Homo sapiens: one gene and its partner. The protein of the gene in region 1 interacts with the protein of each later gene in a biochemical or structural test. Each region holds a gene or a part of one and is shown on either strand. Other genes may lie near its edges.

What was found. Proteins that work in one complex are often made in the same cells at the same time.
Region 2: the proteins of LRP1 (region 1) and PLAT form a complex in vitro, tested with the Homo sapiens proteins (2 studies listed by BioGRID).

Annotation. Positions count from the first base shown.
Region 1 is NC_000012.12:57,131,463-57,138,485, forward strand, and holds part of LRP1 (prolow-density lipoprotein receptor-related protein 1 preproprotein), read left to right. Parts: intron 1-6,996; coding exon 6,997-7,023. UniProt on the Homo sapiens protein: Endocytic receptor involved in endocytosis and in phagocytosis of apoptotic cells. Required for early embryonic development. Involved in cellular lipid homeostasis.
Region 2 is NC_000008.11:42,197,557-42,204,579, forward strand, and holds part of PLAT (tissue-type plasminogen activator isoform 1 preproprotein), read right to left. Parts: intron 1-7,023. UniProt on the Homo sapiens protein: Converts the abundant, but inactive, zymogen plasminogen to plasmin by hydrolyzing a single Arg-Val bond in plasminogen.

The sequences.
Region 1 (7,023 bases):
CTCCCTTTTTCCTGACCTTCCTCCACACACCCCCTTGAGCCGGCATATTACCAGTTACTAGAGTAGGTACAGTGGAAGTGAGTTATGAAGCTGGGGTGTTAGCTTCCTGGATCCCTGAGAGAAAGTTCTAAACTCCTTTCTCCCTGATCAGACTCACATCCTAAACGTCTCCCTTTGCCTCGTTGTCTTTTAAAGCAAGAATGTGTAAGAAATTCATTTTGGGGTTGGAGGGATATTTTGATGTTTAGGGCTGCTTCACTAGACATCTTTTTCTTCTGATCTTGTTCTCTCTCCTCTCTTCATTTTCTCAACCACCCTTCCACCACTGAGCCTCCCAAAGGATGACAGCCCAGGTCCTGGCCAGAGTCAGTTCCTGTCCAGATGCCCCCATTCTTCAAAACCCCTTCCTTACCTTTTGGGAAGCCCTTCCTTACTCAAGTCTATCTCTCTTTCCTCCTGCTGCAGTGTGAGCCCTTGCACATCAGAACCCCCAAGCCTAGGTTTATTCCCGCCCAGTACTCTCTTCTCAGGGTCCTCCTCACTCCTCAGACTCTTTACCTTTCAGGTCCTCCAGCTCTGCGTGTGGGCTCATTGCTCTTGGGGCATCTGGGTGCAGCTGAATGGTACTGCAGGAAGGCCCCTGACTTGGTAGTGCTGGGTATGAGCGATAGAGAACCTGCCTCCCTCTTCTGTCCCAGATTTCAGCCTGGTTAGCAGGATCCTGCATTGTTTGGAGAAGGAAGCAGTTGGCTTTGGAGTGTTTCCGGTGCAATGGCCTCAGGCACCAATATAAACCCTCCCTGGGAAAGAGGTGAGGGGTATATGTGGAGAGTTGTCCCTCTTGCTCCCCTAGGGGAGATGAAAGCCTCTCCCTCTCCCACCAGGCCTTAGCTTCCCTGGCTGAAGAGCTCCATTTTCCTCCCTCCTTTCTACCCTCCTGACTCCAGGGGTGGTAGTGGTCCCTATTCTGGGTCTCCCTTGAGTCAGGCACTGCCTAGGGCCGAGACTCTGTCTCTCCAAGATAGGACAGATCTTGCTCCCACCCTACTCTAGGCTCAGCGGGGTAGTCATTCTCTGGGTTCATCCCAGGACAACTGTGTCATCCCCTTGGCAATCTCTGGACTGAGCCCCCTTCCTGGCTTTTCTGGCTGTCTGTCTGTCTTTCTGTCTGTCTGTCATTAGTGTGCGCTGTCTTGGCTTTTTAGAACCTCTCTGTCTCTCACCCTCTCAGTTCATCTCTTACTGCCGAACCTTTGTGACATTCTCTGCCCTGCTTTCTGCGTCTCTGTCACTTGTCTTATTTTTCTCTGCCTGTCTCCATTTACCCCCATCCAGGCCTCTTGGTATCCCAAAAGCTTCTTGGGAGCAAGAGTCTCTCTGGGCTTTCCCACTCACCCCCTGGCTCCCTCCCCTCTGTTTTGGCTATTTTTCCCCCTTCCTGGCCAGACCCAGTGTCCAGTTCAGCACCAAAAGTTTCCTCTCCACTTTCCTCCGACTTCCTCTTTCTTCTTCCCCCTCCACTAATTTGGGGAATGGGTTTTGGAGAGAATGTTTCTGGAAGAAAGGAACTTGATACCCTTTGTGGGCTAAGAGGGAGAAAGGAGGTATTTCAGAAGGAAGGAGGGAGGTTAGACTTCTGGCAGAACTTCCTCCTGACCAGGAGCCTAAGAACTGGAGAAAGATGTAAGGAGTGAGTCAAGAACTTGGAGCTTTTACTCTGGTGAGCATAAGCTGTGTGTGTGGCTGGGGTGGGGGGAGAAGGAGAGGAGGCTTAGAAATGCCTGGTGAGTGATATGGTGACCTCTGGAGGCCTTCTGGGGGTCTGGCTTTTATTTGTGGGGAAAGGAAAAGCTGGTGGGGGAGGTCACGGGTCAGGCTAATGTCCTGCTGCATCAATATTGACTCAGAATGGAAGCGGAGACCCTTCCCCTCCCCTGGCTGTCCAAGCCACCCTGTCTGTCTGTCTGTCCAGGCCGCAAAGCAGAGGCCCAGACTCAGGAATGACAAAAATGTGTCTGAGCCTCAGGAAAGAGCCACTGGGCAACACCCAAAATACAAAAAATTCAGTGAAAACCTCTCGGTTTGGGTTTGGGAGGCCCTTGCTGCCCCACCCCCATAAGGTCGAAAATTCAGATTCCTGCAGGCTCTGTCCCCGCGCCGCCCCCCCACCCCACCCCCCGCACCTTGAGCATCCTCCTCCCACTCTGTTCCCTTAGCTATATCATGTGGTTCCCTTTAGAGAACCCCCCTCTCACCTAGCTCAGAGGGGAGCCTATCTCTCCTTCTGCTGTGTCCACTCTTAAAAAGGGCCCCAAGAGTCCCTGTCATGCTTTTGCAGTCCCTGAGTCTCCTTGTCCTTTAAGAAGCACCTCTAAGGTCTTAGCTCTCTTCCTTGCTCTCGCTCCCTCAAGGGGGTATCAAAGGATGGGTTCCCCTCCTCTGGAGAAGACTCCTTCAGGGTTGGACTTCGCTGTCACCCTCTCTGGCCAGGCATTCTCACCCCACTTCCCCACCCCCAAGGTCCCAGAATGGGACACAGAATGACAGCCAAGGGTCAAGCAGGGCAGTGGGGTCTGTGTTGTGTCTGGACGCACACCCAACTCTACACCTCCTGCCCTGGCTCCAGCTTGGTGGCCCTGGGGACCGTGGCTGGGCTGGGTGCCTGGGTTTGGGGGGGTGGGGCAGGGTGTTGGCCAAGTTAGCATGGCAGTCACATTCATCTTCAGGCAAAGCCGAGAACAGACGGCCCCTGTGTCCTGGTGTTCTTCCTCCAAACTCGCTCTCTCTCCTTCCTCTCTAGATCTCTCCTTCTTCTTCTCCTGCCTGTCTTCCCCTTCTTCTGTCCCATTCTTGCTCCTCTCTGTCTCCCCTATGCCCTTCCCTCCTCTCTGAGGAGCCCTGAAGGCCACCCCTTAAAATCCTCTCCCCACTGCCAGGGCCAGAGAACGACAGCGTTCTCCCTGCAATTTCCCTTCCTTGTTTTTTGTTTTTGTTTTGTTTTGTTTTTGAGACACAGTCTCACTCCATCACCCAGACTGAAATGCAATGGCGTGATCTCTGCTCACTGCGACCTCCGCCTCCTGCTAATTTTTGTATTTTTAGTAGAGACAGGGTTTCACCATGTTGCCCAGGCTGGTCTCAAACTCTTGACCTCAAGTGATCCGCCCATCTCCGCCTCCACCTCCCAAAGTGCTGGTACTACAGACGGGAGCCACTGCGCCCATCTGGTTTCCTTTCTTTCTTTCTTTTTTTTTTCTTTTGAGATGGAATCTCGCTCTGTTGCCCAGGCTGGAGTGCAGTGGCGCGATCTCAGTTCACTGCAAGCTCCGCCTCCCCTGGTTCACGCCATTCTCCTGCCTCAGCCTCCTGAGTAGCTGGGACTACAGGCGCCTGCCACCACGCCCAGCTAATTTTTCATATTTTTAGTAGAGACGGGGTTTCACCGCGTTAGCCAGGATGGTCTCGATCTCCTGACATCATGATCTGCCTGCTTCGGCCTCCCAAAGTACTGGGATTACAGGCATGAGCCACCATGCCCGGCCTGGTTTCCTTTCTTAACCCGGCTGCATCCCATGACCTATGAGGAAACCACCTGCTCAGTTACCAGTCACCCTGTGCCTCAGCTCCCCCATGTGTGAGAGGGGGGCCGCAAGGGCACCCACCTCACAGGGTTATAGTATCTAAGTGAGTTAATAGTCACCGTATTTCCAATCAGTGGCTGGTGGTTAGCAAGGTGAAAAAGGTTAGCTCCCATCGGTCAGGGAGACCTCCGGGTTCTCTCATGCGGGCCAGGAGGCGGGGAAGGCCTTAGTTGCTTTTGACCTTAGGGCAATGTTGTTCTCTCATCTAAACTGCAGGCCACAAAGGTGGGTTTTCTGGGTGCTGGATTCAGACACAGAAGGCTCTGCTGAGGGGAGTGGGGTTGGCTTTCCCTCTAAGCAGATTATAAGGGTCCTACCCCGCTCCCAACTCAGCTCTCTCCCAGCTCTGAGTGAGGCTTCCCTTGGCTGTGTAGACTGTCCCAAAGTAGTTTATTTGTTTCTTTCTTCCCTCTCCCCCTGAAGGAAATCAAAGACAGGCCTCAGCCTTCTCGCTCCAGATTCCTGGGCCCTTCAACACCAGCCCTGACAGGAAGTTCTTTCACGTATCTCTCTGCAATCCTTGTGCTGGCCAGGCCCTCGGGAGATGTGGCCCCCTCCCCCGGTGCTGCTGTGGGATAGGGGCCTGGGCCCTCCTCTTCCTTTCACTTGTCCCATCCCCCATCCCCTCCCTGCAAGAGCACATCTGGTTTGTGAATCTCTCTCATTCCAGCTTTTGGAGTTTGCCAGCTGCTGTTTCCTCTGTGGAGTTCAGGCCAAAAATGGGGGTGGGGGACAGCGGGGGGGACTCAGTGAGGGCTAAAGGAGGGGGCACCATGGCTGGGATGTGGAATGGAGGGGAGGTTAGGTGACCACCCGGTGACCTCAGGCCGTGGCTGTGCGCTCTGCCCCTGGGAGGAGCAGGGCATGGACCAAGTCCCAGGTGGGTGGCACGGGGGTCTGTTTCTGGGCTCCAAACATCTCATCTGCCTCTGAGTCCCATTCCAGCCCCCCTCTTCCCCCTCAGCCGGCCACGGCTGGTCAGGGGAAGCGGACGGTTCTCCGGCATGCTAACTAGGCTGGCGGGCTGTGTTTCCCGGGAAGACCTCACAGCTGGCCCAGTGGGGCAATGAACTCAGCATTATCCACCTCCTCAAGGGGCCTTTATTCCAGGCTCAGGGTGGGGGCCAGGGGAGGGAGGCTGAAGGGGGAGCCTGGCTAGGCCATCCTTGATGTGTTTCCTGAACTCGGTCATTTTGGCCAGGGGCCTGAGTGCCGTCTCCCCTGCCAGCGGTGGGGGTTAGGAGGGAAGACATCTCAGTGAGGCTCCCATCAGACTCCCTCCCTCCTAAGAGCCCCCCCCCCCCGCCATTTTCCTTATACTTCTGTCTCTGCCCTGCATTTGCATTAGTTGGGTACAGCTGTCTTCTCAGGCGACTCTGGCTCCTGCAGGGCAGAGGGTCATCTCACCCTCCTTGGCACCCTGATGCCTAGTGCAGTGCCTGGCATAGAGCTGGCCTTCAGTGTGTGCCAGCAGAATAGAAATGTGATGGCACAGTCTGAGGAAAAGCCACGAAAGGCCAGGAGACTGGGAGCTCAGCCTTGGGTGGGGGAGAAGGGGTGGGTGACTGTTCCTCCTGTGGAGGATGTGGTGATAGAGGTTGGGAGGAGTGGGAATTCGGAGGACTGGTGTGGATTTCACTGGTTCAGAGCTTGGAGTCAGCTTAGCTGGTTTTGTCACTTGCCAGCTATTTGACCCTGGCCAAGTCACCTGGCTCAATTTCTTCATCTGTGAAATGGTGGTATTAGTTGTCCCTATTTGTCATACTGTGGAGGGAATTAAATATGATGATACATGGAAAAAACTGCTTTACCACAGTTCCTGGCACATACTGAGCCCACAATAAGAGTTAGTTGTCAGCCGGGTGCGGTGGCTCACGCCTGTAATCCCAGCACTTTGGGAGGCTGAGATGGATGTATCAGATGAGGTTGGGAGTTCGAGACCAGCCTGACCAACATGGAGAAACCCCGTCTCTACTAAAAATACAAAATTAGCCATGCGTGGTGGCGCATGCCTGTAATCCCAGCTACTCTGGAGGCTGAGGCAGAAGAATCACTTGAACCCGGGAGGCAGGGGTTGCAGTGAGCCAAGATCGTGCCATTGCACTCCAGCCTGGGCAACAAGAGCAAAACTCTGTCTCAAAAAAAAAAAAAAAACAACAGAGTTAGTTGTCACCATTCTTAATTCCTCCTTGGGGGATGAGGGAAGAGAATGGGGTAGGAGTGGAAGAAGCCTGATTGGGGTGGGAGGGTAGGGCCAAGAGGTCCTGAATATAGTAGCTAACTAGTTGGACTGGACTGAAACCAGTTCCTAGAGTTCATTTCAGCCATCCCCCTGCCTCTGCTCCCCAATTCTGATATCTTGAAAATCTTTAGGTGCTTCTTAACTCTAAGGATGTCTACTGAAAGTCTCCCTGAGGTCTAACCAAGGGAGGCTGTGTCTTTAGAGAATGGAGAGGACAAGGCAGGTGGATCACCTGAGGTCAGGAGTTTGAGACCAGCATGGCCAACATGGTGAAACCCCGTCTCTACTAAAAATACAAAAACTAGCTGGACATGGTGATGCATGTCTGTAGTTCCAGCCACTGGGGAGGCCGAGGCAGGAGAATCGCCTGGGCCCAGGAGGTGGAGGTTGCGGTGAGCTGAGATTGTGCCACTGCACTCCAGCCTGGGGGACAGAGTGAGACCTTGTCTCAAAAAAAAAAAAAATAGGGAATGGAAATGGAAGCAAGGCTCTCTACCCTGCCCATTCCTGCCCAGCCTTGCCCTCCTGTGCCTCTGCTAATACCATCTCCAACTACTACTGTGTGTGCCAAGGGCATCCCTCCCCACTGCTCCCATCTGGGGGCCTAGTGATTAGGGGTTGGGAAGGATGGGGTGATGGGTCAGGGGACCAGGAGTGTCCCAGAAGGCAGGGAAGCAGAGAGGTTAGATAAGACCAGCTCGGGGCCTCTAGTAGTAGGAGTTAGAGGAAGACAAAGAGAAAACATGTCAAGGCCTAAATGCACCCCCCTTCACCATCACTCTGTCATCAAAGCCAGGGGGTGCTGGTGTCTGATGAGAGTAACCAAGAATAGCAAAGGCTTTGACCCTGACTCCCAGGAACAGGCAGCCTAGAGGACTTGGAGGGGTGCAGTAAAATGTGCTTCTGGATCCTCCCCACCCCCACCGCAGATACACAGTGTCTAGGAACTACCCAAAGCCACCCCCTGACACCCCCAGGCACATAGACCATGGCTGAGGGTCTGGGCCAGATGGAGACTGATGCTAGGGAAGGAAGAGCAGTACTAGGGGACTTTGGGTTCACAGAGTTGGCCTCCATCCTTCATTTATATCCCCTTTTCTTTCCTTGCCCTAGCCCCTAAGACTTGCAGCCCCAAGCAGT
Region 2 (7,023 bases), on another chromosome or scaffold:
TCATTTCTTTGGTGGCCACATGGGGAAATGATGGTCGATGGGCACCAGTGAGTAACTGATTCTGGATTGGGCACAGCCCCTGGAAAGGAGGAGGCCAGCTGGAGGAGGGACAGGGGAAAGTCAGTGGGGTGCTGTCTCAGTGCCTGTGTATTACATCCCCCTCTATCTGCCTCTACCGGCCCCATCTTCCCTCCATAAAAACCAGCTCCTAGGAAAGGAACTAATCAGCTTGTTCGCATAAGGTAAAAATGACTGAAAAATAATTAATGTGCTGTCCTTCCAAAAAGCATCTATATTTTGAGGCATAAAATCTCCTGCCAGCAATGCAAAACCAAGTGGGCTGGATGCTCCAAGGTTGCCTCCGGTGCTGACATCCTGCGGTTTCTGTTCTGTTGTGAGAACATACGACATGGGGAGTGTCACATGCAGTATAAACTGGGAAACTCTTACAAATGGCACTATAGTTCTATTGTTTAAATTATATAGGAAAGCGAGGCCACATGAGGTGGTTCACGCCTGTAACCCCAGCACTTTGGGAGGCCAGGGTGGGAGGATCACTTGAACCCAGGAGTTCGAGATCAGCCTGGGCAACACAGTGAGACTCTGTCTCTGTTTATTTTCATATAAAAACATTTTAAAAATAGATTATATGGCCAGGCACAGTGGCTCACACCTGTAATCCCAGCACTTTGGGAGGCCAAGGCTGGCAGATCTCTTGAGGTCAGGAGTTCAAAACAAGCCTGGCCAACATAGTGAAACCCCATCTCTACTAAAAATACAAAAAAATTAGCTGGGCATGGTGGCGGGCGCCTATAATCCCAGCTACTCAGGAGGCTGAGGCAGGAGAATCGCTTGAACCCGGGAGGCGGAAGTTGCAGTGAGCCAAGATTGCGCTACTGCAGCCTGGGCGACAGAGCAGGACTTCGTCTCAAAAAAGATTATACAGAAAAGTGACTTGCAATAAAGGAACTGTACACATGTAGTCAATCAATGAAATTGCAAACAGTGCAGTCGCTCCAGATGTTAGTGAACTGGAGAATTATAGTCTGTACTCTTGCCAGCAAGAAGAAGGCAGAAACGTGAGCAAGCTAGAGGAGGAGGGAAATTGCAAGGGAAAGACAAACGTAAATTGATACTATTATCAAATGTTGCACCATGTGCAAAGTTTGCTACATTTATCTTTGGTCAAGGAGATTCTTAGGTTATTGTTGCTTAGCAAAAGGTCTCTCTGAAAACCTGAGCAAGAGAAAGTCAGTCTTCAAGAGTACCAATACCCTAAAATGACTCATGGATTTAAAACAACACACTCTCCACTGCCACCCCCGCCACAACCACCATAGCCCAGATGAATGCCAACAATTAAGAAAAGAAACGGCCAGGATTCCTTGGACCAGCAAAGGCACGTTTCTAGAGCAGGACGAGAGCTGAAGTGAGATGCTGGGAGAGGAACTAGCCTTGGAAAGGGTGGCGTGCTCCCACGAAAGCAACCCTTTGTTCGGGACAGGAGCTTTGAGCCTGGTAGCTCTCATCCCACTTCTCCAGGCCCTGCATAGTACAGAGGCCATGATCTCAGAATAAAAACCACTTTCAAAAACTACCATCACATAAGTAATTCTTAACTTTTCGAAAAGGTGATTTTCTATAGGCTAAATGGTTATTTTCCCTCTCTTAACAGAACTGTTTATAACTAGGGGAGAAGAGAGGAAGAGTCTGTTTCTTATCTAATTTCACCAATTCCAATGAAGTGAAGAGTATAGCATCCTCTCAGAGCTGGGTGTGGTGGTTTGCACCTGTAGTCCTAGCTACTCAGGAGGCTGAGGCAGGAGCATCACTTGAGGCGAGGAGTTCAAGACCAGCCTAGGCAACATAGCAAGACCCCATGTCTTCAAAAGAATAGAATATTTTCCTGGCAGACCCTGCCCCCCACCCATCAGAGCAGAATTTTCTCCAAAACATCTTCCAAATGTAGGCATATGGCCTGTGTCTAAGCTATATGGAATTAAACTCAGAAAAAGCTACAGCAGGCATGTCCAGCTGTCATCTCCTCAATGCTCCACCCTCTGCCTGGTAATCCCGGTTATTTGGAGGAGTGGGGAATTTTGGTTGTGGGTCTAGGAAAACAGAAGTCTATCCCGCCTCCTCCCACAATCAAAACAGAAGAAACCCTGTCCTAATACACTTAGATCCTTCTGAAGCAAACACAAGGACCACCTGGTGAAAACTAAATCAGTCAGTGCAATAAAATGTTAACTGCAAAGTCTGCATCTAAACAAGCCCTGAAATCTAAAGTGAATCGAAATGAATGTCATCTTCCGTGATGAAGGTCGTTCGTTCCTCATGTTCCTTCCACTCCCTAAAGCAAACATCACCACAAGGTAATTAAATACGCAATGATTTGACAATTCTCCAGCCCAACTCCACATTTCAACACACTTGAATTAGGAAATACTGATCAGAAACTTTCATTGTATCATTATATGACTTTACCCACATTTTACTGGCCTTAGGTGAAAGTGACATTATTGTTGCCTGAGAAATGTACACATGGATGAATGCCACTCACTCAACAGATATTTGAGTAGCTTCTACCTTTCCAGGCACAGAGTTTACTAAACCCTTTCACATCCATTAAGTCATTTGAGGCAATATTATTACCTCGTTTTTACAGATGGGAGAACTGAACTTCAAAAAAGTGTAAGGGGCTGAGAGCAGTGGCTCACGTCTGTAATCCCAACACTTTGGGAGGCTGAGGAGGGTGGATCATTTGAGCCCAGGAGTTCAAGATCACCCTCGGCAACATAGGGAGACCCTCGGCTGTACAAAAAATACAAAAATTTGCAAGGTGTGGTGGCTCACATCTGTAATCCCAACACTTTGGGAGGCCAAGGAGGGTGGGTGGCTTGATCCTTGGAGTTTGAGACCTCCCTGGGTAACATGGCAAAACCCCATCTCAACAAAAAAATACAAAAAATTATTTGGGCATGGTGGTACATGCCTGTAGTCCCAGCTACTTGGGAGGCTGAGGTGGGAGGATGGCCTGAGCCTGGGAGTTTGAGGCTGCAGTGAGCTGTGATCATACCACTGCACTCCAGCTTGAGACAGAGCAAGATCCTGTCTCAAAAAAAAAAAAAAAAAAAGTATAAGCGTCGTGCTGTACGGTGACACATCTTGTGAGAGTTGGCATCAGGACTCAAGCCCAGGAGACACAGTTCTCTTACCCCAAATCTAACACTCTTTCCACTACTCCTCACTGTCTATGTGACACCCAATTGTAACTTTTTTTTTTTTTCTGAGATGGAGTTTCACTCTGTTGCCCAGGCTGGATTGCAACGGTGCAATCTCAGCTCACTGCAACCTCCGCCTCCTGGGTTTAAGCGATTCTCCTTCTTCAGCCTCCCGAGTAGCTCGGATTACAAGTGTGTGCCACCATGCCTGGCTAATTTTTGTATTTTTAGTAGAGACAGGGTTTCGGCATGCTGGCCAGGCTGGTCTCGAACTCCCAACCTCAGGTGATCTGTCCACCTTGGCCTCCCAAAGTGCTAGGATTACAGGCGTGAGCCAACACGCCTGGCCATAACGTTCTTAATGTGTTCCACATGGTATACGACAGCAGAATGCCACAAAGAAGGGGCGTGGTCACTGGATTCTCAACCTGGAAATCTAACTGCATTTACAGCACACATTCTGTGTGGGCAACTCACTCTCTCTGAGCCTGTTTCCTGGTTTTTGTCATGGGCTAATCATTTCCGTCTTGCTGAATTGTAAGGTAACTGGAAAAGAAGCAGGAAAGTCCTTCCCCCACACCTGGGTGCACGGCAGGAGCGACCTGCACCTACTGTCATGAACATCCTTCCTCAACAAAAGCACTGAGGCTTCCCGCTTCTCCCTGGAACAACTTGAAGCTGCTGATGCAGAAGAGATGCCACGCTTCATGGGGTCCTCATGGATCCCCGTTAATACTGAATCCTGCTTCCTAGATCATCCGACCACCTGTGTTAGCCTATAACCAATTCTCTGCAATTGATGTAGAATTTTGTGCCTTCATCTGTGTTCGTAGAACAGTATCAACAGGAGCCATTATTTCCTGAATACAGGGTGATGTCTTTAATCTGGTTTTTAATCTGCTTTTTTATTTGCCTTTCCCACACCATGCATGCAGAGGCCACTGTGGACTCCCAGCAGAAGCCAGAACTAGCAGCTGAGATGACACAGCTGAGACATCAGGCCATCTCTATTGATAAGGCCCATCTGACCAAGCCACACTATGAAAGTCAGAGGCATCATGTGAGAGAAATAAGGAAATTGGAGCTTCCCAGAAAAAAACCCTTCGCTTTCTCTCAGTAGCCCAGGTGTTAGACACCGGCTCTTGCTACAACAAGATAAAATACAACGGGTTTCTCTTTTTGGTGAACATGACAGAAAGAGAATAACCAGCAGAAATCAAGTTGACCAGTAGTCTCTCTTTCTTATTTATTTGTTTTGAGACAGGGTCTCGCCCAGTCACCCAGACTGGAGTGCAGTGGCGTGATCACAGCTCACTGCAGTTTCAACCTCCCTGGCTCAAGTGATCCTCTCACCTCAGCTTCTCAAGTAGCTGGGACTACAGGTGCGTGCCACCATGTCTGGCTAATTTTTTTTTTTTTTTCATTTTTTTGTAGAGACAGAGTCTTCGCTATGTTCAAGACCCGGGCTGGTTTCAAACTCCTTGGCTCAAGCAACCCGCCCACCTCGGGCTCCCAAAGTGCTGGGATTACAGGCAGGAGCTGTGTGCCCGGCCTCTGTTAGCTCATCCATACTGGGTTATCGGGTTTAGCATCCCCTCCCAGTCCCTGTCCCCTGCCTTCTGGAGACTCAGCTGAAATAAAAACTGCCCACATCAAGAGTCCCATCTATGGGGCTGGAGAAGCTGCAGGGATGTCCTCCTCCCAGCGCCTACCAGACCCCCACCCTGCCCCCCCAGCCCTCAAGCACCCACATGAGCTGCTTCTCTGTTAAGCATTCACAGACAATGATCTACCCATGCTATATATTCACCATCAACGTGTATGGAGCACCAGCCGTGCCCTGGCACAGGCTCTGGTGATGCAAAGACACAGCTCTTATCCTGAAAGAGCTCATAGTTAGGAAGGGGCCTGATGAATAACTAGACACTCAGGGTACAGCAGAGCAGCGCCATACCACGCAGCAGGGTGGGGACGGGGGTGGGCTTGGAGTGGAATGTGGAGGAGGTTGTCCATCCCAGGCTTGTTGAGGTTGGGGTGGTCAGGCAGGCTTTCTGGAATGCATAACACAGAAGCTGTTCCGGGAACACACGAAGGAGTTAGGCAGACAGTGAAGGGGTCTGCTCCAGACAGAGCACATCCCCACGGCTTGGCTCTGGGCCACAGCAAGCACAGAGCCCCCTACCCATCAGCACAGCTCCCGACAGCAGGCAAAGGTGACAGTCGCCCCCGGGCTCTTCTGCCAGGGTGTCCTGGGAGGACGTGTGCTTTGGAATCTCTGAGTGTTCTAAGGATCTAGGGGCCTTTGTAGGAGTCCAGCATGGATTCTCTAATGCCTAGCTGTATGTTAATGGAATAGTTGTGACTACATAAAAAAAACAAAAGGCTCTCAATACACAGGTCTCCTGGTATCTGGGTTCAGCCTAACCTGGAAGTGATCACTTCAGAGGCTCCAGGTGGAATCAGATCTTCTGATCAATCCTCAAAAAAACTTCCCTAAGCCACCAGTGCGTGTGTCAGGAGCATCGCGTGGTCACCCATGCACATCGGCTGGGCCTGTTAGCCAAGTCGCTGCTGGGTCTTGGCCATTGGTGTGTGCAATTCACAGCCGGGCAGCTGCTGCAGACACCCAGTCATATACTTGTATAGGAAGAACAGCTGGCTAGCATTTCCTGGCAGCCATGATCAGCACCACAACTCAGGCAAAGTTGAGTTCAAAAATGTTTCTAAAACACTTGCTGTGTGCCCAGCACCTGTTTCATCTTCACTCTGTCACAGGTGTTATTTTTGAGTGGATCAAGAATTGGGTTTATCTGTCCCTCTATCCCATTCTACAGAAGTTTCCCAAGTGGCATACATAGAAAATATTTTTTGAATATATAATATGCAAAATATCACTAAGAGGGACTGGGCACAGTGGCTCTTGCCTGTAATCCCAGCATTTTGTGAGGCCATGGCAAGAGGGTTGCTTGAGGCCAGGAGTTTGAGACTAGCCTGGGCAACAAAGCAAAACTCTGCTTCTACAAAAAAATTTTATAATTAGCTGGATATGGCAGCATGCCCCTGTAGTCCTAGCTACTTGGGAGGCTGAGATGGAGGATCACTTGAGCCCAGGAGTTTGAAGGTTCAGTGACCTACGATCACACTGCTGCACTCCAGCCTGGGTGATGGAGTCAGACCTTGTCTCTAAATTATATATATATATATATATATATACACACACACACACACACACACACACACACACACACATACAAACACATATTGCTAAGAGAATGTGCTGTCTTTTTATGTAAGTAGAAAACTGAGCCACTATCGGAAGACCATGTGGCTTGACTTAGGGTTGGAGCAGGGTGGATGAGCTTTAAATTTATTTCTAGCTCTAATTTTCTTTGAGTCTAAATCATCCTCACTCTTTTACCTGGTTTGATGTGAGACCCACCATATGGTTTTGTGAGCTGCTTGACTAGGACGAGGTTTATAGCCTGACACTATAGACAGACATTTTCTCCCGTATATACAAAAGAAATGGCCCCAAGAAGGAATGAGCAGAATGCACTGGTCCCTTATTGTCCGTCCCAACAATCTCATCAAAGCAGAAGCGAAAATCACTCAGAGAAAGTAAAAAATTTATTCTGAGACTGCAGGTGCATAATGCCAAATAATCAAAGAAAAACCTGTCTGGGCATGGTGGCTCACGCCTGTAATCCCAATACTTTGCGAGGCCAAGGCGGGCAGATCACTTGAGGTCAGGTGTTCAAGACCAGCCTGGCCAACATGGTGAAAACTTAGCTGGGTGTGG